2 separate regions of the Homo sapiens genome follow, and region 1 is linked to region 2. The links come from fine-mapping of genetic effects on plasma protein levels. A gene starts in region 2. The other region holds a variant in brackets. All regions are shown on one strand. Distances are between the middles of the regions.

Region 1 (5,000 bases), 30 kb before region 2:
ATAAAATCAGCTATTATTGTTTAATGTTATTTGTATAAGATAATTTTGGGAAAATAGATTAAGGAGAATTGTTAGGTCAGCCACAACAGATTAAGGTCCATGTGAATAGAAAGGTAATACAGACTGAGGTAAGGCAATTCTTTCTTTTTATTATTATTATTATTATTATACTTTAAGTTTTACGGTACATGTGCACAATGTGCAGGTAAGTTACATATGTATACATGTGCCATGCTGGTGTGCTGTACCCATTAACTCGTCATTTAGCATTAGGTATATCTCCTAAAGCTATCCCTCCCCCCTCCCCCGACCCCACGACAGTCCCCAGAGTGTGATGTTCCCCTTCCTGTGTCCATGTGTTCTCATTGTTCAATTCCCACCTATGAGTGAGAAGATGCGGTGTTTGGTTTTTTGTTCTTGCGATAGTTTACTGAGAACGATGATTTCCAGTTTCATCCATGTCCCTACAAAGGACATGAACTCATCATTTTTTATGGCTGCATAGTATTCCATGGTGTATATGTGCCACGTTTTCTTAATCCAGTCTATCATTGTTGGACATTAGGGTTGGTTCCAAGTCTTTGCTATTGTGAATAGTGCCACAATAAACATACGTGTGCATGTGTCTTTATAGCAGCATGATTTATAGTCCTTTGGGTATATACTCAGTAATGGGATGTCTGGGTCTAATGGTATTTCTAGTTCCAGATCTCTGGGGAATCGCCACACTGACTTCCACAATGGTTGAACTAGTTTACAGTCCTACCAACAGTGTAAAAGTGTTCCTATTTCTCCACATCCTCTCCAGCACCTGTTGTTTCCTGACTTTTTAATGATTGCCATTCTAACTGGTGTGAGATGGTATCTCATTGTGGTTTTGATTTGCATTTCTCTGATGGTCAGTGATGGTGAGCATTTTTTCATGTGTTTTTTGGCTGCATACATGTCTTCTTTTGAGAAGTGTCTGTTCATGTCGTTCGCCCACTTTTTGATGGGGTTGTTTGTTTTTTTCTTGTAAATTTGTTTGAGTTCATTGTAGATTCTGGATATTAGCTCTTTGTCAGATGAGTAGGTTGCAAAAATTTTCTCCCATTCTGTAGGTTGCCTGTTCACTCTGATGGTAGTTTCTTTTGCTGTGCAGAAGCTCTTTAGTTTAATTAGATCCCATTTGTCAATTTTGTCTTTTGTTGCCATTGCTTTTGGTGTTTTAGACATGAAGTCCTTGCCCATGCCTATGTCCTGAATGGTAATGCCTAGGTTTTCTTCTAGGGTTTTTATGGTTTTAGGTCTAACGTTTAAGTCTTTAATCCATCTTGAATTAATTTTGGTATAAGGTGTAAGGAAGGGATCCAGTTTCAGCTTTCTGCATATGGCTAGCCAGTTTTCCCAGCACCATTTATTAAATAGGGAATCCTTTCCCCATTGCTTGTTTTTCTCAGGTTTGTCAAAGATCAGATAGTTGTAGATATGCGGCGTTATTTCTGAGGGCTCTGTTCTGTTCCATTGATCTATATCTCTGTTTTGGTACCAGTACCATGCTGTTTTGGTTACTGTAGCCTTGTAGTATAGTTTGAAGTCAGGTAGCATGATGCCTCCAGCTTTGTTCTTTTGGCTTGGGATTGACTTGGCGATGCGGGCTCTTTTTTTGGTTCCATATAAACTTTAAAGTAGTTTTTTCCGATTCTGTGAAGAAAGTCATTGGTAGCTTGATGGGGATGGCATTGAATCTATAAATTACCTTGGGCAGTATGGCCATTTTCACGATATTGATTCTTCCTACCCATGAGCATGGAATGTTCTTCCATTTGTTTGTATCCTCTTTTATTTCATTGAGCAGTGGTTTGTAGTTCTCCTTGAAGAGGTCCTTCACATCCCTTGTAAGTTGGATTCCTAGGTATTTTAATCTCTTTGAAGCAATTGTGAATGGGAGTTCACTCATGATTTGGCTCTCTGTTTGTCTGTTATTGGTGTATAAGAATGCTTGTGATTTTTGTACATCGATTTTGTATCCTGAGACTTTGCTGAAGTTGCTTATCAGCTTAAGGAGATTTTGGGCTGAGACAATGGGGTTTTCTAGATATACAATCATGTCATCTGCAAACAGGGACAATTTGACTTCCTCTTTTCCTAATTGAATACCCTTTATTTCCTTCTCCTGCCTAATTGCCCTGGCCAGAACTTCCAACACTATGTTGAATAGGAGTGGTGAGAGAGGGCATCCCTGTCTTGTGCCACTTTTCAAAGGGAATGCTTCCAGTTTTTGCCCATTCAGTATGATATTGGCTGTGGGTCTGTCATAGATAGCTCTTATTATTTTGAGATACGTCCCATCAATACCTAATTTATTGAGAGTTTTTAGCATGAAGGGTTGTTGAATTTTGTCAAAGGCCTTTTCTGCATCTATTGAGATAATCATGTGGTTTTTGTCTTTGGTTGTGTTTATATGCTGGATTACATTTATTGATTTGTGTATATTGAACCAGCCTTGCATCCCAGGGATGAAGCCCACTTGATCATGGTAGATAAGCTTTTTGATGTGCTGCTGGATTCGGTTTGCCAGTATTTTATTGAGGATTTTTGCATCAAAGTTCATCAAGGATATTGGTCTAAAATTCTCCTTTTTTGTGGTGTCTCTGCCAGGCTTTGGTATCAGGATGATGCTGGCCTCATAAAAAGAGTTAGGGAGGATTCCCTCTTTTTCTGTTGATTGGAATAGTTTCAGAAGGAATGGTACCAGTTCCTCCTTGTAGCTCTGGTAGAATTCGGCTGTGAATCCATCTGGTCCTGGACTCTTTTTGGTTGGTAAGCTATTGATTATTGCCACAATTTCAGAGTCTGTTATTGGTCTATTCAGAGATTCAACTTCTTCCTGGTTTAGTCTTGGGAGGGTGTATGTGTCGAGGAATTTATCCATTTCTTCTAGATTTTCTAGTTTATTTGCATAGAGGTGTTTGTAGTATGCTCTGATGGTAGTTTGTATTTCTGTGGGATC[G/A]GTGGTGATATCCCCTTTATCATTTTTTATTGCGTCTATTTGAATCTTCTCTCTTTTCTTCTTTATTAGTCTTGCTAGGGGTCTATCAATTTTGTTGATCCTTTCAAAAAACCAGCTCCTGGATTCATTAATTTTTTGAAGGGTTTTTTATGTCTCTATTTCCTTCAGTTCTGCTCTGATTTTAGTTATTTCTTGCCTTCTGCTAGCTTTTGAATGTGTTTGCTCTTGCTTTTCTAGTTCTTTTAATTGTGATGTTAGGGTGTCAATTTTGGATCTTTCCTGCTTTCTCTTGTGGGCATTTAGTGCTATAAATTTCCCTCTACACACTGCTTTGAATGTGTCCCAGGGATTCTGGTATGTTGTGTCTTTGTTCTCATTGGTTTCAAAGAACATCTTTATTTCTGCCTTCATTTCGTTATGTACCCATTAGTCATTCAGGAGCAGGTTGTTCAGTTTCCATGTAGTTGAGCGGTTTTGAGTGAGTTTCTTAATACTGAGTTCTAATTTGATTGCACTGTGGTCTGAGAGACAGTTTGTTATAATTTCTGTTCTTTTACATTTGCTGAGGAGAGCTTCACTTCCAACTATATGGTCAATTTTGGAAAAGGTGTGGTGTGGTGCTGAAAAAAAAGTATATTCTGTTGATTTGGGGTGGAGAGTTCTGTAGATGTCTATTAGAGACTTAGACTCCCACACAATAATAATGGGAGACTTTAACACCCCACTGTCAACATTAGACAGATCAGTGAGACGGAAAGTTAACAAGGATACCCAGGAATTGAACTCAGCTCTGCACCAAGCGGCAATTCTTTCAAAAAGGGATTGAATTGTGAATGAAAGAGAAATAGTATGGTAGCTTAAGGGAAACGAAAATTGAAATTTTTTAAAAAAAGCTTTTGGAATGCTGGGTGTGGTGGCTCACGCCTGTAATCCCATCTACTCTGGAGTCTGAGACAGGAAGATCACTTAAGCCCAAGAGTTTGAGACCAGCCTGGACAATTTGTGGAAAGACCTCATCTCAGGAAAAAAAAGAAAAAAAAAAAGTTTTTGTTTTAGTGACTTCTAAATACCTCATAATAGTTAAAGAAAATCACTTCAGTAATTTAGTCCTTCATAAACCCAATAAATAGTAAGTCACTTGTTTTCAATCTTTAATGGATTTTTCCAGTGGGTAATATTTTGTATTCACCAGAAAATGTGTTTTTGGCAGTAAATGTTAATGCAGTTTTGGTTGTTTATGATTTTTATTAGTGATTTGTTTTTTGCAAACTTAAAACCAAAAATGGCTAACAGCTGGAAGATTGAAAATACAAACATAAACCTCAGTGAATTAATTGCAGGGATTTCAAGAATCATTTCCAGTATTTTAAAATTTTGGTTTTGTCTTTTCTTTTTGTAAAAAGATTAACTTGGCTACTTTAAGCTCCACTATTCAGATCATAGATAAATCTGTCTTTTATTCTAACCTTAGTATTTACCTTATGATTTTAATGATGAATTTCAAGATGTTGGGTTTTTTCAATGTCAGTAAACATTTTTTACTTTTACATATGTTCTTATAAGTGCCATGATATCACAATTTTTTGTTACATTGTAGAAAAATTTATTTTGTTTATTAAAGCAATTGAAACTTTAGAATATTTTAATTTTTGAGTGATTATTATAGTATTGTTTTCTTTTATCTTTAAGGACTTCATGATCTTTTATTTTTCTTTGTAAATGTTTATGGTTTACAAAGCATTGCATATATATTTTTATCATTTATTCTTCATAGCAACCTTGTTCAGTGTTGTCACCCCTACCCTTTATAGGTGAGGAAGCAGGCTCAGAGAGGTGGTAACTTGCCCAAGACTATAAATGGAACTGGATTTCCAAGGCAAAGTTCTGCAACCCGGGACACTGCTGGTTCTAGCACTACTGGTGGTGAACATTTATTATTAAAATCATACTATCATCATCCCTCTACTCATACCATGGTCTTCCCTCTTTTTTTGCTCAAAAAAGTAGC
Region 2 (5,000 bases):
CACAGTTGTCCATCCATGGCTGTTAGGAAAGTCTTTATATGGAAACTCAAAAATGCCTTCTGGAAAATTCATTTCTCTCTGCTAGTTCTGTCTTCTGTTAGCCTTTTACAATTAATCTAATCTTTTGCATTTGTGTATCCTGGTTGCTTGCAAAGAAAAAAGTCAGGCCAACCTTGATACCATGAGGAATTCATTATTTACACTCTTTACCTGAGTCTCTTGCTGGGTCTCTTCCACTGCTTTGTTAATAAGTACAATCAAGTATAGGTCCTAAACCTCCCCCAGTTCAGTGTGCAACTGTTTACCAATAGGAAAATAATGGAATGTCTAGGAGAGAACCCTAGATAGCAGTATTTTTTTCTTATTATTCAGAAAGAATGTAGAGAATATTATATGTCATTTAAAATGATATGACTTTTGGCTGTTTTATTTTGAGTTTATTAATGAGGTACAACCTCTGTTTTATTAGTTTTGGCAGTATTCAGGTTACTCTATTTTTAAACCCTTTAAAAATATTAAATCTTCTTCTCAGGAATACTCAATATTTCCCTGATTTAGACCAGTTTTGCCAGTGTTTTCCACTCATGGAAAGCTTTGGATTTTGGTTTCAAGTCTCTCTTAATCAGAGTAGTGTTTGGAGTATTCTTCCAGTGCTACTGCTATTACTAATAAATCATAGTAGCCTAGAGCTAAGAGAGGTCTTTGAGACTTTCCCCCCATGGCCCTCTTTTACTGAGAAAAAGCAGAGGCAGTGAGCGTCCAGAACTGGCTGGAGGTGGTGGAGCTGAGGGCTGGCTTCCTCACTGCTTGTTGGTTGTGCTTTGCACTAGACTGCATGTCCTCCTAAATGGATTTTAATCTCATAGTTACTTCCAGACAGTAAACAGACTTTCCTCTGGAAAAGCCTAGGTAAGGAGGTTTGGCCAAGTTCTTAAAAGAGTTCATAACATATGGACTGGAAATAAAGCTTAAGAAGCACATAAGCTTTCTTGTTTCCATTTAACTGGTCTACAAACTTAGAAAGTTTATCTAAGTGAAATGGTATTTCCTCTCAGACACTATTATTAGGTAAATAAGTCACTGTGCTTTTAAATCCCATGTTTAAAGGCCCGCTTGGCAACTTTTCCCCTGGGTTTAAACATGCCTATCAGTTCACAGGTACCAGTAGCAGATTTCAGCATATAAATGTGATATAACATACTCCATATATTTCACCGAAGGAATCCAAACCAAATTCAGATGTAATCAAGGCATAGTCTTGTAAGCTAACAAATGAGTTAAAAGTCCAACATGCATTTGGAAACTTATTCACAGTACCATTTGTTCATGGATACTGATAAAGATAGCACTTTCCTTAAAAAGTAGTTAATTTTACCTTAGAAGTATAACTAGCATTCTGACAAAGCATTCTAGCTGTTCTTCCTTTTATACTAATTTTGCCCTTCATTAATTTCTCCACATGTCTAGCAATCAAGCTACTGTCTTAAAAAACAAAATCTACTGCCTCTCCATTTTTATGATGTTTCCCACAGTGCCTCAAGACTTGTGCTTGTAAAGTTAATTGTTTTTGTCTCAAACCTCAGATCAGTTATCAGAATATTTGTTTTTAATTGAGTAGTTAGTTGTAACAGAAGACTATATATCCTCTGTTCTTTCCACTACTACACTATACTCCTTAATGCCAAAAAACAAACTAAAAACATCAGGATCCTTTTATGTGTGTGGGCTTGTGCTCGATTTTTCTTTCTTTTTTCATTTCTTTCTTTTAACAGCTTGATTCTTGGATTTAAACAACTTTATTTTTAGGGAAATACAACCCCCTCAGGTTCTTTATGACTCAGTCCCTACACCATGTGGCCACTGTTTCCTGGGTGCCACACCTCTGAATAGATTAACATGAAAGAATGCTGTGCGCTATTTAGATTACTAGGGAGTAGAATATTGAATACATTGCTTAAATTTTTTAATCTAAAATTTAATCAGAAATTTACTTTGGGAGTAGACAAAGGAAATCTTTGAAAGTGTTAAATTCTGACTGTATACATGCTGTGAAAATTTCCTAATCTTTCATATTGAATATAGTGCTAGCTAAACTATTGCTGATAAGTATTCTTTCTTGGAATTGAATAGATTTCCATTTGAACTTTTCAGTGCCATTTCATTATAATAAGGAAGACATTTATCAAGGAAAAAAATGAATATTCAAATGTATAAGTAAAATTGACATTTCAGTAATTCACACATTTTAAATACACATTAGAAAATATTTTAAATATTGAAAAATATATTTACTGTTTCATTTAATATAGCTGTGATATCCCCAAACTTCATGATCATTATTATAGCAATGTTATTTTCCTAGATAAACATACAAGATGTTTATTTAGATGACTTTTAAAATCAATCATGTTAACATTTATGGTAAGGCATAATGACAGGTTTTCACTTAGCTGAAAAAAAAAGTCACATAATTATATTTAAAATACATTCATTATAGGTAAGACATAAAACTAGAATAATTTTAGGTACAAATTTAGGTTTGTATTTAAATGCTGATTTTTAAGAAATTATAGAGATAAACTTTGGACTTTATCCTATTATTTATAAGCATTTATTAATAACATTAATGTCTCCTTAGTATTGACTGTAAAGTATACATCGATACTTGTAAGATAGACATGAAACATACCTGTCAGAAGAGAGTAGTCCTCCTAAAAGTAGAAGTTATCCACCATGTACTACTTATCTATAATGTAAATGTTCTCAGACACTGTGTAAGAAGAAAAGATGAGGAGGTATTACATTTAAAAGAAAAAAAACACCCTTCAACACAGTCCTGGTGTGGCTGCACCCTGGGTGATACTGGAATAAACTGCTCCCACAGATTAGTCCATGTTAGTACTGAGGAGCAAGATTAAAACTTGTTACTGCTCATGTGTTTTCCATCACTGTTTGTATCGTAGCCAAGACTTCTAGCTAAACTCTAGACGTCTACTGGAAGATTCTGAAGAAGAAAAAAAAAGAAAGTTTAATAATGCATGGCAACTGGCCATTGAAAGTGCAGTCGGAGTCATTCAAGAAATACCTAGTTTTAAAAATATTAGATTCTTAAGTGAATGAATATTTGTAAATTACAATTTCAAAAATTACTCAACCTGTATAGACTAATAAAATATTTATCAATCTGAATAAAGGATACCAACATTACTGAAGTATATACCCAAACTTCAGATGTACCTGAGAAAGAACCATACTTTTTTTTTCTTCTAATGACTGTAGCTATTGCATTATGCATACTTCTCCAGACTTTTTTTTTTTTTTAAGCTTTTAGCACTGCTATAGCATGTCAGGGAAACTATGGATGAGGCTCCATGAACTGCTCCCTGGACTCAACATATGTGATATAACACAGACACACATGCATGTCCAAGTAACACCCTCTTAGGATGCATACAACTTTCCCTTTTCAAGAGAATATTAGCTATGGCCTCACTGACATTTAGGGAGACTTAGAGCAGGGAAGATGCTATTTCCTGAAAATAAATCATTATTTGTACCCCCTTTCCACTCATCCCCAAGAGACTGCCCAATTCTACATCAACTAAGACCTTCAAGAGAGGACAGTTTTCTTTTTTTTTTTTTTGAGACGGAGTCTCACTCTGTCACCCAGGCTGGAGTGCGGTGGCGCAATCTTGGCTTACTGCAAGCTCTGCCTCCCAGGTTCACGCCATTCTCCTGCCTCAGCCTCCCGAGTAGCTGGGACTGCAGGCGCCCGCCACCACGCCTGGCTAATTTTTTGGTTTTTTAATAGAGACAGTGTTTCATTGTGTTAGCCAGGATGGTCTCGATCTCCTGACCTCGTGATCTGCCCGCCTCGGCCTCCCAAAGTGCTGGGATTACAGGCATGAGCCACCATGGCCGGCCTGAGAGGACAGTTTTCTAACCCTAGTGGCAAGGACTTACTGTTGTAAGTGACCCCAATGGTTCTTCCCAACTGTTGTATAGATTTGGAGGCCAGCAAAGAGCTTTTCCAGTGGGTTAGAAGACCTGTTCTCTACTGTCATCAAGAGTCTGACCATCGTTTGTTCCCTCTCTCCAGAGAAATGGCACACATTGTGTTAAGCAAGGCAGCTACAGTCCTAAAGAATACATGTGCCTCAGATGTGCATAGCAGCTGGCTATGTGTTCATCCTCCCCTCACTTAAATAAAGTACTCCTCCTTGGACCTCTAGGCTGACAGTTCCAGGCAGCTCGGTAGTCCCATTAGTGGCCCTCTGTAACTCAGGCCCCATCCTAGCCCTGCAGCACCTTAGGGAATGACGGCCCTCCTGTTTGGTTTAGAATGCTCATATTCTCATTTATTCAAGTATATTTCAGTTGCAAATGTATCTGTTAACTGGATGAATTGGGAACATAATGAAAATATGAACTGGATTTTTAAAATCTTTGTATCCAGAGCATCTAGTGTTTGCCTAAATTCCTTCAGAACACAGTCATAAACAGGAAGCCCTTGGGTCAAATTCAGTTTGTCCTGCACAATGTTTTGTTTCTGAACTGTTTATTGAAGTGTATGTTACCAAAAAAAAACATATCATAATGGTACAACTCAATTAATTTTTACAAAATGACCCCAATCAAGAAATCCCAGCCTCACACTCCATTCTCATACATCCAGAATCCCTCCTCTTACTCCTCAAGTCACAGCCTGAGTTCAGCACCATAGGTTATTTCCTGAACTTTATATAAATGGAATCATACTGTGCATTCTCTTTTGCATCTGGCTTTTTTCATTCAGTGACATGCTTTTGAGATCCATTCGTGTCATTGTGATACACAGTAGTTCATTCTTGTCACTGTATAGTATTCTCATACATGAATAAGCCACAAATTGTTTATATATTCAACTAGATTAATTACCTTTTGGAGAGGTACTATGAACGTTCCTCAGTCTGTCATTTGGGGGTCATGTGTATGTATTTTTGTTAGGTGAAATTGCTGTA

Alleles and levels. Positions count from the first base shown, and alleles are read on the strand shown. Strength reflects both the effect of a copy and how common the allele is.
For the plasma level of the protein whose gene starts at base 2,903 in region 2, allele A in region 1 goes with a higher level than allele G (weak association).

Evidence for each region. PIP is the posterior inclusion probability: the model's chance that the variant is causal. Protein levels are from antibody-based Olink assays in UK Biobank. Linkage for the fine-mapping came from a reference panel and not from the study's own genotypes, which makes the PIPs less certain.
Region 1: its variant is fine-mapped to the plasma level of the ASPN protein (UK Biobank, PIP 0.99).

The regions. Positions count from the first base shown.
Region 1 is chr9:92,449,944-92,454,943 of GRCh38, forward strand. The region is part of intron 5 of CENPP (centromere protein P); the gene reads left to right. Among named protein-coding and RNA genes, the nearest start is that of OMD, 28 kb to the left of the region's middle. The variant G/A (reference allele first, on the strand shown) is at 2,993.
Region 2 is chr9:92,479,604-92,484,603 of GRCh38, forward strand. It overlaps ASPN (asporin), which reads right to left and starts at 2,903. Exons shown (of 8, transcript NM_017680.6): 1 at 2,690-2,903. The region is part of intron 5 of CENPP (centromere protein P); the gene reads left to right.